2 separate regions of the Homo sapiens genome follow, and region 1 is linked to region 2. A link means that fine-mapping ties the variant in region 2 to the expression of a gene that starts in the linked region. Tissue or cell type: whole blood. Region 2 holds a variant in brackets; the other region holds the start of a gene. All regions are shown on one strand. Distances are from middle to middle.

What was found. PIP is the estimated chance that this variant, and not a neighbour inherited with it, causes the effect.
Region 1: CWC15 starts here. The variant in region 2 is fine-mapped to the expression of CWC15 in whole blood (INTERVAL, PIP 0.97).

The regions. Positions count from the first base shown.
Region 1 is chr11:94,969,684-94,977,791 of GRCh38, reverse strand. It overlaps CWC15 (CWC15 spliceosome associated protein), which reads left to right and starts at 4,236. Exons shown (of 7, transcript NM_016403.4): 1 at 4,236-4,294; 2 at 5,599-5,737; 3 at 6,305-6,417; 4 at 6,727-6,815; 5 at 7,696-7,803. The coding sequence starts at 5,607. It overlaps KDM4D (lysine demethylase 4D), which reads right to left and starts at 4,083. Exons shown (of 3, transcript NM_018039.3): 1 at 3,724-4,083; 2 at 2,044-2,138. RefSeq lists enhancers at 3,830-3,979, 4,300-4,469, 4,184-4,959.
Region 2 is chr11:95,007,424-95,015,533 of GRCh38, reverse strand. It overlaps the pseudogene LOC100420801. Among named protein-coding and RNA genes, the nearest start is that of KDM4E, 14 kb to the left of the region's middle. The variant A/G (reference allele first, on the strand shown) is at 4,767.

The DNA of each region.
Region 1 (8,108 bases), 38 kb after region 2:
AGATCTCTGCCCTTTTAGAACTTATATTCTACATGGGAGAAGTAGAGAAAGAGACAATAAATGTAACATAACTAAATTATATAGGGTCATGGAAGATGATAAATGCCATGTAATTATATATAATATAATTTTAAAAGATAAAAAGAAGAAAGAGGGGAAGGGAGATACGGAGTACAGAATGTTAGGGGACAGAGAGGGAGAACAGTTGCAATTTTAAGTAGAGATGCCCAAGGTTCGTTGGACTCCATTTGAACAAAGACTTGAGTAAGACAGGAAAGAATAGCCTTGGCAGAGAAAATAGCTAGTGTGAGGGCCCTAAAGCAGGAGCAGCTGTGTGCGTGTCCAAGCAACAATATGAAGGAGGTAGCCATGAAAAGCATGAGCAAGTGATGAGGTCAAAGAGGTAGGGGAAAGGGTAGACCATAGAAAACTTTGGAAACCATTGTGAACACCTTGGCTTTTACTGTGAGGGTAATGGGGGACCAATGCCCCCCGCTGTCTGACTGGATCCCCTTTTCTCTCAATCCCATCCAACTATGTTATTAATTTTTTTAATTGTTGCCAATCGGATGCTGTAATGTGATAATCCATTTTTAGTTTACTTTCATTTTCCTCATTAGAAGGTTGAGTGTCTTTCATGTTTATTGACTTGTCTATTTGAAATTGCTTTTTCTGAATGGCCTGCTTATATCTTTTGTCCATTTTTTAATTGGGTAATTTGTGATTTTTATATTATGTGTATCACTAGCAGTAGCAGTAATCCTTTATATGTTATAGGCATTACAAAATTTATTTGCGAATCTAGAATTTATTGACTTGTTTTTGGCATCTACAGCTATAAAATTAATTGTTGGATAAATGAATTTTTAAAAGTATTTCTTTTAAAGCTCTTAAGGTGTTCTGCTTTGATTGAAAGGTCTTTCCAAATTCTAGGTTCTATAAATAGTTTCTTAAATTTTCTTCTTAGGTTTTTATGGTTTCTATTTTCCCTTTTAGGTGTTGATTTTGTTTAAGCTTTAAACTGGAATTCCTATGCTACTCCTGCCATAAAAATAGAAAGTTTTGCAATCAAGGGCCAAACTACATCCCTTTCACATTTAATTAAATGCTACCTTTGGCATACTAAAATGAAAGAGCCTTTTTTAAGGTTAAGATATACTATACCATGTCCAAAAGCTGATAAAAATGATCTGAAAGGGATGGCCTCATAGATCATAAGAAAGAGAAAATATATAGCAAAATGCCAGCCACTAAGAAACCTGGAGGAATTAGGACCCAGAGCACAAGGGAGAGTGTGGGTCACCTCATCTCCAGTAATAATGAGAATCTGAGGATACAGGAATAGCCAAAGGCAGCTCGATAGATCTGCGGAAAAAAGGAGATGAGAAGTCCTTGTTTAAGAGCTTCTGTTTTCTCAGAGAACTGAGAAGATCTACTGCCAGGAAAGAGAATGCAGAGGGAAAAGGAGGTGAAAGAGGCATGTAGACTTGAAGAAAGGGGAATGTGGGAAATTATATTATTGTAGAGGGGGAAAATAAACAATTAGGAGAGCATAAGAGGACTGGCAGGCAGAATTAAGGGCCAAACTAGATTTTGTGGTAACAGGTTTAACATAAGAATTCTTGGGAGGTTATATGATTTTTGCCAGCTAGGTTAACTGATCAGATGAATTTCAAGATTTTAGTAAACTTAAGTTTCTTTTTCTTAATACTTTCAAACCATTTAAGTCAAAAGCTTTAGTTTCATTTTCTTATTAGCACTTTCATTTAAGTCAAAAGCTTTTAATTTTGTGGATTGACTATATTGTATATTGGTGTTAATGAAATTATAGGGTGGCTATTTATCACCACTGGCAACCAAAAGATTAGGTTAGTGGGCTGGGAGTTAAATCAATGAAGTGATTCACTCCAGGCTAATGAGGACAGTTGGAACATAAAAACTGTGGGTATCTCCTATAATTGTGTTACCATCTTGCCATTGTTACGTCATTCCTCTACTTCATAGTGCATCATTCATTCATTCATTCATTCAACAAATACTTACTCAGCACCTATTATGTGCCAGGCACTGTTCTATATGCAGAGGATACACCCAGTGAACAAGAGAGACAAGGTTCCTGCTTTCCTGGAACTTATGTTCTAATATAGGAAGATAGACAATAATAATAAAAATAATATTAATAATAATAATAATAGCTAACATTTATTTAGCAAGTACTATTTGCTGAGACAGTTCTAAGCACTTTACAAGTATTAATTCACTTAATCCTTAGAGTAGTATTACAAGTTAGGGACTAGAATTACGCCCATTTTACACGTGAGGAAACTGAAAGCACAGAAAGGGAAAATGACTTGCCTAAGGTTATAGAGCTAGGAAAGGGCAGAACTGGAATTTAGAACAAAAATGGGCAGGCTGAAGATCCTTTTCTCTTAATGACCTTCGCATGCTGTCTCCTGAGAGACATGGAAATAAAAAATGAATAGAATAGACTCTGGTAATGTTTAGTGGTATGAAAAATGAAACAGGGTGATGTGATGGTGTACAAACACAAGTGTTGGAGGGGTGGGGGTAGGAAAACCTCACTGTGATACCTGAGACATGAAGGATGGTGATACAGTTACTTTGGGGCACAGGCAACAGAGAAAAGCTAGTGCAAAGGCCCTAAAATAGAAGGAATCTTGCCCTGTTTTATAAAACAGAAATGCCCACTTGGCTGTGTCTAGAGCTTAGTGCGTAAGCGAGTGACTGATTGGAAGTGAAGTCTGGAAGGTAGGCAGGAACCAGACTCCGTGGGGTCTCAGGTCACATTAAGAAATGTGATTTTTATTCTAAGTGCAGTGAAATTGTACACAGGATAGTAACACCATTTTATTAATTTTAAAAGATCACTCTCTTGGCTATATGCAACACTGACTGTAGGATAAAAGATGACGCAGGAAGATATAATAGGAAGCAATTACAATCCAGGTAGGAGATGGTGTTGGCAAAGGCAAGGGTAGTGGCAGTAGAATAAAATTGCGGGTGAGTTTTAAAAGTAGAATTGTTAAGACCTGTAAATGAACCGTATGTGAAGAGTGAATGAAAAGGAATTTAAGTAGGCACTCCGGGATTTTGGTTTGAGTAACTAGCATGATGATCGCGTCTTTTAGTGAGACTTGTTAAGACTGGAGGAGGGATACCTTCGGTAAGAAAAATCAGGATTTTCATCTTGAACTCTATGACTGAAAGGGCTTTTTCTGCTTTTCTTTCTTCATTAAAAAGTTGCAAAGAATTTAGGGGTAAGAAAGCATTTAAATATTCAATTTTGTGAGTTCCTTACATTTTAAACTAAGTTGGGGAAGTTGAATTTTCATTTGTTTAACAAATATTAATTGAGCAGCTACTATACGTCAAGGTCTATGTGATGAGATACCAAGATGAGCTAAACAACCAAGATCTCTATTCTCAGAATTTGTTTTTATGGAAGGGAGGAGAGACGACTGGTAGGTTTTTGGTTTTCGGGTTTTCTACTTTTCGTTGTCTTATTAAAACTTAACACTTAAGTAGCCATCTTAATAATTACATCTTGTGCTCCTGGTAGTTGGGCCCACCATTGTAAACGCTCTCGTAAATACTGACATCTCCCCTCCCACTAAAACTAACGTTTTTTAAATAAGAAATTTTAGCAAACATTACGAATACAACCTTTGCTTTGAAGTGTTAATATTTTTGCAGGAATGGTACCTTTGTAAAGATCGTGGTTGCCCCGTACATATTTGTTCTTTCTTCATATCCAATTAAATGAAAACACTAGTTTTTCCGAAGCCCAACTCTCTAGGTTTGTTGGTTCTAGCTCAGGAGAAAGGATGGAAGCAGGAGTCGTTGGATTTAAACAGTTTGGTGTAATCCTTTTCCACGCTCTCTCCCGCTAGCCGGGGACGTGGTGTCGGCTACCCGGGGCTTTCCGTCCACGCAGTACCGGAATGAAGGAGTCTGGGAGGGGGTCGGGGACGGAAAAGACGGAAGAGACATTAAGTAATTGGTTCTTGAAGGTATAAAATGAGGTTTAGGGTCTACTCTAAGGCACTGATTTCAAACGCCCGCCCCCTGGGCCGCTTCGGCCCCGCCCCTTAGTGCCGTTACGCCGACTTCCACTTCGGCCACTGCGGATTGGTCGTTGCTTCCGCCCCCGAAGCGCTTGGATTTTGCTTCCGGGTCGTAGGCGCTAGCTCTGGGCGCAGAGGTTTCTGGGAGCCAAGAGTGGTAATGGCGTCTGTATGATCTTCGGAGCCTGCTGCATCGGACCTCGGCCAGTGTGAGCGGCAAGAGGATAGGAGATTATCTTTCTTATCGCGATGGGACGGGAAAGGGCAGTTGGGGTCGGAGTCGGCGGCAGAGTGCAGAGCGCGGGCGGTGGAGGCCCTGGAGCAGCGGGCTAGGGGCGGAACCGAGTGCCTGTCAGGCGCGTCTGGAGCTCTTGGGCCCGCCGAGGAGATCGCAGCGTACAGGCAGCTCGCCTACTGCGTAAAGCGAACCCCAGGTCCTCCCTTCACTACCCTTCGCACCCCTGCAGTGCTGGGCACGGGTGAAGAGGCAGCGAGTTTCTGGTTATAGCCAAAGACTAGCTCACGGGAGGCCGGAGTGATAATTCCGTGGGTGTGTGGGAAGGGGCGGCGCCCCCAGCGCCAGATAACCCTGTTTTCTTCTTTGTATACATGTCTCTACCCTTTTTGAAAGTTGAGAGAATTAGCATCGCCCCCCCCCCAAAAAATCCTCCCAATTCGCCCACCCTCCCCACACACTTGCTTTTCCGACACTAACAGGGTTTTAGTGACTGCATCTGCTGCACAGTATTCTTGTGACTGCTCCAAGCAGAAAGTAACTTGAGGAATGAGTCCCTGATTTTTGGCATCAGAATCCTCTGGGGGTGAGGTTCCTGTTTTTTTTGAACAGGCCTTAAATTATAACCCACAAACGATCTAATTTATAGTATGATGCCTGTTGTAGGAGAAAATTGGCTCAACAAACGGTTGTTTAAGAATTTTTTTCTGTGTAACTGTCATTGAAGTTTAACACACTTTTCTCTGGGACATTTAGTAACTTTGTCAGTGATATTTTTTGTTTGTTTTTAGCTTTTGTTTCTACTAGCCTATTTGCTATTGTGTGAAGTTTAGATAAAATGCAAACCTTACAGAGTCTGGTAGAGTAAGGTTGAGTTGGAAATTTTTAAAACTCAGTCATGGCAGTACTGTATTTTACTAGGGTTTTGACATGTCAAGTGTCATAATTCTTATAATCTATGAGGAATATCTCCATTCCACAGATGACAAAGTTAAGCCAGGTGACTTGCTCAAGCCCATATAGTCAGAAGGAGAATAGGGATGCAAACTCAGATCTTCATGACAGAATTTTTTGTACTAAGGCAAGCCTGAGAAGCCATATTCCTTGTACAGCCTAAGCCTCATAATTTGTTTTCTTGAAAACTTTTGTTTAAGAAGATTAAGCAGGTTTTGGGGAATGAGTTTTAGAACTTATTTTACCAGTATGGATATTGATTAATACTCTATAAAATGAGTGTTTGTAATGTTGGAAATAACTTGATTATATTTTTCTTCAAAGCATAAAAGATGACAACAGCAGCCAGGCCAACCTTTGAACCTGCCAGAGGTGGAAGGGGAAAAGGAGAAGGTGATTTGAGCCAACTTTCAAAGCAGTATTCAAGCAGAGACCTACCCTCTCATACAAAGATAAAATACAGGTAGTAAGACTTTCTTTTTTTATTGTTCACAAAACAAGACCAGATCTGTTAAATGGCATGGTCATGATATAGTAGTATGTTTGAGTTATGTCACTTATCTATTTTCATAGGAATAGAATGCAATAGGATGTTTAACACTAAAATTCTGCTGTGATTTTAAAATGTGAAATTCCTACTAACCAGGAATTTTCATATGTAGATAGAACAATAAATAATAGAAATAATAATGCCTCAGAGTATGCACTATGAGCACCAGTCAGTATATTAAAAGTATTACTGTTAAGTTCTGAGTTGATATAATCCTAATAAAAATTAAAGACATTTTAATCACTGTAAAGCCTTATTATAGGAAAATATGTGATTGAATTTGGACTTCTTGAAATATTGGGAACATCACAAGAGTGGCTGTTAGTAACCTTCAGATTAAATTATGATCTTGTCTACTTCCCTTTTTTCTGCTTGAAGGACAAAGTCTCATTCCTGAATTGTCTTCCATTACTACAGTCTCTGTGTGTGTGTGTGTGTGTGTTTAAGTAACATTTTTGCCCTGGTTTGTTTCTACTTTAGACAGACTACTCAGGATGCCCCTGAAGAGGTTCGTAACCGTGACTTCAGGAGAGAGTTGGAAGAAAGAGAGAGAGCTGCTGCAAGAGAGAAAAATAGGGATCGTCCAACCCGAGGTACCAACACTATCCAAGACATTTGTCTCATAAAATTATGTTGTTGATAGTTTTTCTTTATGTAGCAATTGGAAAATGTTAACCATTTGTTTACTTTTACAGATTGATGTGAGCTGTACTACTTTCTTAGGTCATTAGAGATAATAACAACAAATATTTACCAAAGGCTTATTTGCCCAGGCACTGTGGATGTGAGTTCACTGTGGATAATGCTTTTAATGTGGGCTCCTTGTGCTCACAGGTCCCTAAAACATTTTAAGAAATGAAGTATTTGTTTTACTAAGTTAAATGATTTTTGTTTCCCCCCAGAACATACAACCTCCTCTTCAGTGTCAAAAAAGCCACGGTTAGACCAGATTCCTGCCGCCAACCTTGATGCAGATGACCCTCTAACAGATGTATGTTTTGTTTCCTCCTTTCATCTCTAATAATTGATTTACCATGCTATTCTAAAATACTTGTTATGTCTTTGCTTTAAGAAGTGACATATATTTATGTTTAGTTACTGTTATTCAAATATAGCCCTGACCTCAGTGCTAAACTTTATAGTTGATTTTAAAATCAAAAGTATTATTTTGTGGGACTTTAAGAACAAGTTTGATCTCTAGAGAACCAAATATGGAAGGAATCTATAAAAGGATATGCTTTCCCCCAAAATAATGTCCTGTACTAAACTACTGCACTACTGCTGTGTTACACACCTCTCCAGGGCACTCTTCATACTGGGCTTCCTATAAACAGTGCCCTCTAGAGTTGTACCTGGAGGCCTTTCCATATTAGATATGTCCCCTTCTATAAGTGCAATACACTTAATGGTTCCCTCTGTGCTTAGGGAGGGAAGTAATCTAAGCAGAAGGTTTTTAAGGATTAGCACATCAGTTAATGTTAAAATTCTGTGGGACCCTAGAGCCTATAATCAATTTGCAGTTTTCTACATACAGGACAGTGAAAAACCTGAGTGGCATCCAATGAGTAATATCTAACTATGTATACATATCAGCAGTTAATTCTAGAGTTAATTGATGGAGTTACTCATAATAGTTAAAACAGGAAACCTAATTTCAACTGAAATTTAATGATTATTCATTTGAAATTATTTTCTTCTGAGAATTTAGCACACTTTTTTGCACTTTTGAGTATCTTTGCTGCTAGCTTAAAGTTGTTTTGAGCTACATAAAATTGTTTTGACTTTCTTAGGGTGATACGTTGTACATATGTACTGTGTTTTGGTAGTGTGTATTTTCCCTCCAATCTTCTGGGCTCTCACTGTTCTTTTAGGAGGAAGATGAAGATTTTGAAGAAGAAAGTGATGATGATGATACTGCAGCTCTTCTTGCAGAACTGGAAAAAATTAAAAAAGAAAGAGCTGAAGAGCAGGCCAGGAAGGTAAAACCAAAGTATTAAATATTTACATCTATCTTCTCACATACACTAAGGTAGAAATTTTTTTGAATATAAGTAATATCTTCTTATATTAGAAATCTCCTTTACCGTGTCTAAATATTATAGCACTTGTAGATCTATAAATGATTATTTTTATGACATCCTAGGTATCCTGGTTATGTAAGAAATTCTTTCCAAATAGTTCAGATGCACTGAGTAATATTCACAGGCTTGCTAGTCATTTACTTGTTTATTCATTTGTTCAACATTTAGTCGATATCTGTTAATTGACAGGAGAATCAAAGATG
Region 2 (8,110 bases):
TGAGGTCAGGAGTTCGAGACCAGCCTGGGCAAATGGCGAAATTCCATCTCTGCTAAAAATACAAAAATTAGCTGGGCATAGTGGCACGCACCTGTAGTCCCAGCATTTTGGGAGGCCGAGATGGGCAGTTCACCTGAAGTCAGGAGTTCGAGACCAGCCTGGCCAACATGGTGAAACCCTGTTTGTTCTAAAACTACAAAAAATTAGCTGGGCGTGGTGGCACATGCCTGTAATCCCAGCTACTCACTCGGGAGCCTGAGGCAGGAGAATTGCTTGAACTGGGAGGCAGAAGTTGCAGTGAGCTGAGATTGTACCACTGCACTCCAGCCTGGGTGACAGAACGAGATCCTGTCTCAAAAAATATATATATTTTCTTATTCTTTTGAAATTATAAGTTATTCATGTTTTCTTTTAACCCTAATATATTGTCAAATGTTGTGAATTATCCATTGGTACTTGAAAATAAGGGGATATTCTCTATTACTGGGTACATAATTCTACCTTATGGTTAATGTTGTTTGTTTTCTATATCCCTACATTTGTCCTTTTTTTCTGTCTTCAGTACAGTAAAGTTACTTAAATTCTTCTGTTTTAAAAGTACTACTCAAACTTGTCTTATAGAAACTGCAATTTATACTTAATGAAACTCACATGGGTTCTAGGCTGGATCTCAAATTTCTGGCCTAAATCTGTACCATAAAAAGGAGAGCCCTATACCATAAAAGAGAAAAGAAATAATACTTTACCAGAACTTTCTTTTCCAACTGTGGTAAATTCCACTTTGGACCCTGCAGCCCATGCCCGCCCCTCCTGTTTTCCCCCTAGAAAGACAAGCCCAGCACGGAAAGCTCCGTGGGTAACCGTCTCCCAAGCACTGCTCGAGCCCAGCACAGGGGCCTTGGACACCCGCCTCTGGATTCTCTGTGCAAGCGCTCACCCTATGTGGATTCAGTCAGGACTTTGGCAGCCTCTGAGACCAGAAGGCCATGAAGAAGGAAGCCCACTAGAAGCAGTGCCCACTACCCACCCACGCTCACTCTGACAGAAGCACACAAGCTTTGCACTGCCCGTCCTGTGCCAGGTAAAGGGATCCCGTGAGCTTCAGTGCATGTACAGTGCTGGCTGTGAGTTTGGCAAGAGCTTCCTGGCTTCACACAGCCACCTGGTCACCATGCCCAGCTTCCCACAGAGCCATGTTGTGCCCATAGTGAGTTACTGCCAGCAGGAATAAAAAGATATGGAGCACAACTCTCCCCAAACTCTGCAGATTATGTGAAGACTGAAAACGCTGTTTCAAAGCCAAGGAGACATCCGTGATAAGGGGATACTGAGAGAAACTTTAGACTCCTAAACCTGGGACTTAGGATAGAACTGAGAGATCCATGAATTCCCTGAAATAGTAATAGATGCTGGTGTGCATATATTTGGTATGCAGCTGTCAGTAGTCTCTTAAAATTCAGGAGAAGTGACACAAGTTTTAATCTAAAATTTTAATTAAATTTAATTACAATTTTTGAATTTCAGATGACATTAAAAACTGATTTACTGCAGGTATTTAATCAGATCTCCAATCAAGGCAGACGCACAGGGGTATTAATGATGTTCAATGAAGAATGTGTAACCTACTCTAAAAGGTGATTAAATGGTTTTACCAGGGACACATGAAGATATGTTTACACCAGTGTTCATAACAGCACCATGCACAGAGCCAAAAGGTGGAAACCACATAAGTGTTCATCAGTGGAAGAACTGATCAACAAAATGTGGTATATACCTACAGTGGAATATTATTCAGCCTTGAAAAGGAAGGAAATCTGACACATGCTGCAACGTAGTTGAACCTGGAGGACATCATGCTAAGTCAAATAAGCTAGACATGAAAGGACAAATATTGTATCATTGCACTTACATGAGGTACCTAAAATACTGAAATTATTAGAGAAATAAAACAAGGGATACCAGCAGCCAGGGCAGGCTATAATGAGGTGTTACTGTTTAATGGGTAGAGTACTAGTCTGTGATGATGAAAACGTTCTGGAGATAGAAGGTGTTGATGGTTGTACAACGATGGGAATGTCCTTAAAGCAGCTAAACTATACACTTAAAATGGTGAAAATTGTAATTTATACATGTATACTATACCAAAACAAAAATAATTAAAAGTTTAATGGAAGAAAAAGTTGCATGGCTATTTATAAAGGCTGTATTTTCATTGTGAAATTTAGCCTTTAGTATTATAAAGAGTCCTTCTATGTCCCTTTGGTCTACATTTGTTTGATATTAAGATCTACCACCTCTGTTTCCTTTTGCTTTTGCATTTTCCTTGGTACAGTTTCCCCCATTCTTTTAGTTTTCAATTTTTCTGAATCACTTAGTTTTAGATATATCTCTTTTATAATTGTGATTTTAAAATATGTTTTCAGGATTTTCCTTTTTTTACATGTCAGATACACACTAGGAGTGTCAAATTTAACAAACAGGAGGCAGCATTTGGTAACCTTGAAAATGTGTCAGTTCTTGAAGGTCGAAGAATCTAATACACAGGTCCAGACCCGAACTGTGCTTGGCTGGGAGCCTTCTGTGGCTTCTGTAGTTGAGGTCAGAGGGGCAGCCACATTTGGCAACATATTCAACAGTCATGGGTTCAGATGATTGAGATCTTGCATTGAAGGCAAATATCTCCAAATTCTGAGGTGCAGCTCTGTCTACCTTTAGCACCAGGAGATGAGTCAGGGGCTTAGGAGATTCTGGCAACCTCAGTAGGGGCCAGGATCCTAGAGGCATGAGTGGTCCATTGCTTCAGTCTCATCCAGATTCACAGGGGCTGTGCAATCTGGAGCAGCATCCCTGCAGAACTTATTCAAAGACACAATGACATTGGGAGGAGTCAGGGGAACAATGTCAGAGAGATTCTGAGTGGTGCTACCCTGGGTTAGCAGGCATAGGGGCCAGGGTGCATGGGTTCATCATGATTCAGTGGGGACCCCAAGGGTTGATGATCAGGGGCACAGCAGCACCCAGAAGCCTTGGCAAGATGCTGAAGCCCCAAGTTCAAAGGTGCAACTTTGTCCATCAAAGCTTCATCTGTATACAGCGGATGAGGCTCAGGGCCCAGAACTAAGTGCACTGTGCCCACCAAGAGGGGCCTCCTGGCCTAAGCCAGAATGGTCGGCTCCTGAGCCCCCAGTTCCAGAGCACAACGACTATGACCACGACCATGTCTGCCAGTTTGGGGATGAAGATCTGGGGTGGACAGAATGAGGGTCAGCAATGGGATCCAGCCAGGCTTCTGGGAGCTGCAGGTCATGGTGACCTCGCTATGGGAAGCAGCCCCTAGGGCCACTGAAGGACGGAGGCGTGGAGAGCACATAACGGCACCCACGGCCACAGGCAAACTGGGGCTTTGAGCTCAGTGAAGAGGGAGATGCCTCAGGCCTAACACGGCTCTCCTGGTCAACTGGGCCTCCCTCTAGGTGCTCAGCTGCTGGCTGTCTAGTGCCCTGGGCTCCATGTGGTCCACAATTGCCTGGTCTTGCCTGTGTTTCCGCAGCTCATAGGGCTCGGTTTACAGGATGTGCACAAAGACGTCCATGGGAAAAAGTCACCCTCGTCCCCTGGCAGCCACACTGGAGGCCACTTTGCTGTAATCGATCCATAGCAGGGTCACGAAACTGATGTCCTTCACCCAAGGGCTAGTTTCCTGATTTGACTTATAAAGGTCCTTTTTTAAAAAGCAATTTTAAAACAGAGTTAACTAAGAGGCTGAAAATTAAGAGGTTGAAAAAGGCACAACAGGACAAATATTAAAAAAAGAAACCTGGGATAGCAATGTATTTATAGGATCAAAGTGGCACATTTTATAACTATCAAAAAGAAAACTTCACTAGAAACATATTACAGTGATGAACATCATACACCTAACCATATGGCATTGAGTCATAGAAAGTGAATCCTGAGAATTACAAGGTAAAACTGATGATTCTGCAATTATGGCAGGAGTTTTGATTTTTCTTTAACACCATTCTCTCTGAAAGTGACAAAGGAGAGAAGAAAATTAATAATGCTATAAGAGTTTGAACAAACTTAACAACTTTGATCATATGACTCACCACCACCATAAAGCAAAGAGAAATGCTTTACAACAGATATAAAACATTTACAAAAATTTAGCAATTCGGGGTACAAAATAAATATCAATTAAAATTCCATACAATCAGTATATTGAGCACAATCTTGACCACAATTAAATATAATTTAAAGTCAGCAAAAAGGAGTTGAACCCAACCATATTTATTTCAAAATTAATATCCGTGTTTGTAAAAGTCTATTCATCTCGATGCTCAACTCAGCAGTTAGTAAAAACCAAAACCAAAAAAAACAGAATTAGGCAATAAAAATGAAAGATTAAAATAATGACAGAATGATAAACAAAAGAGAAAACAAAGATACACAAAAAAAGAGATGATTAAGGTACTGAAATCTGATGCCTTTAAAGAAAAATAAAATAAAGAATTGGCAATACTGATGGAGAAAAAGAAATTTCTAGACCGAGGAAAGGAAATGTACTGGACAAGTCTGGGATATCTTGAAGTGCTTGAAAACAAGGATGTTTTAAATACAAGCAAACAAAAACCTTGATGGGGGTACGGCAACGGGGCACAGGAATGAACAGAAACAGCTCCCAATGGCCAAAGCTTGAAGAAACTTAGCAAAAAAAAAAAAAAAAGTCATCTTGAATTATAATCAAAAGTACAAAATAAATATCT[A/G]TGAGTTCATACTGATATAAATGATTGAATAAATTGACAAATTGAAGAAAAGAGACAAATCTATCTTGTAGCAGAATTCCAAATAAATTATATAAATGCTATACCCTAAATAATAGGGAGAATAATACCCTGCTCCTTTTTAAATTGTTTTCTTCAAATGACATATAAAAATTGTGTATATTGATGGTGTGCAACATGACAGTTTGATATGTGTATACACTGTGGAATAAGTCAATAAAGCTAATTAACATATGCATTATCTCACATATCTTTTATAGTGAGAGCACAAATCTACCCTCTTAGCAATTGTAAAGTGCACAATACATTATGATTAACTATAGTCACCATGCTGTATAATAAATCTCCAGAACCTGCTCCTCTCAAACTAAAATTTTGTACCCATTGACGAACATCTCCTCAATGTTCCCACCCTTCAGCTTCTGATAACTACTATTAAACTCTCTGCTTCTATGAGTTTGACTCTTTGCTCCCACATATAAATGAGTTCACGCAGTATTTGTTCTCCTGTGTGACTTATTTAACTTAGCATAATGTCTTTCAGGTTCATTGATGTTGTTGCAAATGACAGGATTTCAATCTTTTTAAGGCTGAATAGAATTCTATTTTATACATATGCCACAGTTTCTTTATCCATTCATTCATCCACTGAGAGACACAGGTTGACACCATATCTTGGCTATTGTGAAAAATGCTGCAATGAAAATGAACATAGGTGTGCCGTTATCTCTTCAACGTGCTGCTTTCATTTCCTTTGGATATATACCTGTCAAATAAAATTCTAAGAGGATTTGGACTGGGCTCCTGCACAAGACTCAACAGACCAAACCAATATAGAGTTTTATCATGATAGCTGAGCTTCAGTTAATCACAGAAGGTTCTGTAACCAATTAACCAACTAAGTTATAACTAATTAAGTTGTCTCTATACCTCACTTCTGTTTAAATGCTGCCAGATCACTTTTTTGGCCAGAGTCCTCTGAACCTGTTTTGGTTTTGGGGGCTGTCCAATTTGAGAATTGTTTTTTGTATTGTTTTATTTTGTTTTACTCAAATAAACTCCGGTAAATTTAAGTCTAAGGGTTTTTTTTCTTTTAACAGATTGGCGTGGTCAGCGGGATCTGAAGCAGAACTCCAGTGATTGCCAGGGGCACTGGGTAACCAGGTATAGTTACCTGCACTGTGCTTATTTTTTCCTTGCTGCATCTGGGGCTCATGAGTAAGTTCTCTCTTGGATTCCAAAGCTCCACAGATTTGTGCTTTGAGCTATCTTTGAGCAAAGTTTTGATCTGGACTAGATTTGGAAGTTGATTCTAGAATCATGAATAAAGGATCTTTCTTTTTGCCTTGAGCCCAAATCCGAGGTTAATTTGTGCTATGAGAGAGCACGTGAACTTGAGCTGGGTACCAAGGATTATCTTGTGCTGTAAGAAGGCATATAACCTTTGGGGTTTGCAGTGTCTAGATCAGACAGAAACTGGACTACAAGATAGGGAGTTCATTTGGATTAAGGAGTCTAGAACTCTCTGTCCTAGCAGACCAGGAATCATGAGTTCATATGAATCTAAAAAGTCAAGAATTCCTCCATCTGTAACTCCAGTTAATTTTATATACAGTACAAGAATGCTTTTATAGATAAATGGATGAACCTTACCAAAGGTAAGTTAGGGTTACTGTGGCCACAGTGGGGAAGTTTTAATTCAGATAAAGTTTTTCAATTTTGAGGCACATTAGAAAAGCAAAGGTTAATTTCAAAAGGTACAGAAAAAGCATTAAATAAAATTCAACATCCCAAGGCCATATATGACAAAGCCACAGATAGCATCATACTTAATGGGAAAAAGCTAAAAGCCTTTTCTCTAAGATCTGGAACAAGACAAGGATGCCCACTTCCACCACTTTTATTCTTTATAGTACTAGAAATCCTAGTTACAGCTATTAGACAAGAATAAGAAATAAAGGGCATTTGTATTGGAGAGGAAGAAGTCAAATAGTCCTTGTTTCCAGATTATATACTCTTTTATTTAGAAGAAACTAAAGACCACCAAAAAACTGTTTGAATTGACAAATGAATTCAATAAAGTTCCAGGATACAAAATCAACGTGCAAAAATCAGTAGCATTTCTATACGCTAACTGCAAACAATCTGAAAAAGAAATCAAGAAAACAGTTCCATTTACAATAGCTGCAAAAAATAAAATAAAATACCTAGGGATAAATTTAACCAAAGAAGTGACAGATCGCTACAATTAAAACTATAAAACACTGATAAAAAAATACAGGACACAAAAAATGGAAAGATATTTCATGTTCATGGATTAGAATAATTAATATTACTAAAATGTCCATGCTACCCAAAGGGATCTACAGCTTTACTGCAATCCCTTTCAAAATACCAGTGATATTCTTCAGAGAAATAGAAAAAAAATCCTAAAATTTATATGGAGCCACAAAAGACACCCAATAGTCAAAGCAATTCTGAGCAAAAAGAACAAAGCTGGAGGCATCACATTTCTTGACTTCAAAATATACTACAAAGGGATAGTAACCAAAACAGCATGGTACTGGTATAAAAACAGACATACAAACGAATAGAACACAATAGAGAATGCAGAAATAAATTTATGCACTTACAGCCAGCTCATTTTCAACAAAGGCAATAAGAATGTGCATTGGAGAAAGAACACACTCTTCAATAAATGGTGCTGGGAAAACTGGATATCCAAAAGTGGAAGATTGAAATTATGCCCCATCTCTCACCATACACAAAAATCAAATCAAAATGGATTAAAGACTTAAATGTGTGACCTGAAACTATAAAACTACTAGAAAAAAATTGGAGAAATACTTTGGAACATTGGTCTGGGCAAAAATTTCCTGAGTAAGATCTTAAAAGCACAAGCAACTAAAGCAAAAGTAGACAAATGAGGTTATATCAAATTAAAAAGCTCCTGCATAGGAAAGGAAACAATTAACAAACTGAAGAGACACCCTGTTGAATTTAATTGAGTGCTTTTCTGTATCTTTTGAAATTAATCCTACAGAATGGGAGAAAAGATTTGCAAACTATTGGGCATTTTTATTTATTTCATTGGCATCTAAAAGATTAAATGTATCAAAAGTTGCCTCCTTACAAAAGGCAAACAGGTGCATGTTTTTACAGCTTCAATAGCTACAGTGTCCAAGAGGGTTCTTGTACATATTTTGAACCAAAACCAAGGATTTCTAAACTAAAAAATCCCTGTGCCCTGGTATGTGTGACTTTATTGTAAACAGTCATGCCACTGGAAAAGAAAGTGTCTACTTTATCCACTCATTTTGGCCTGG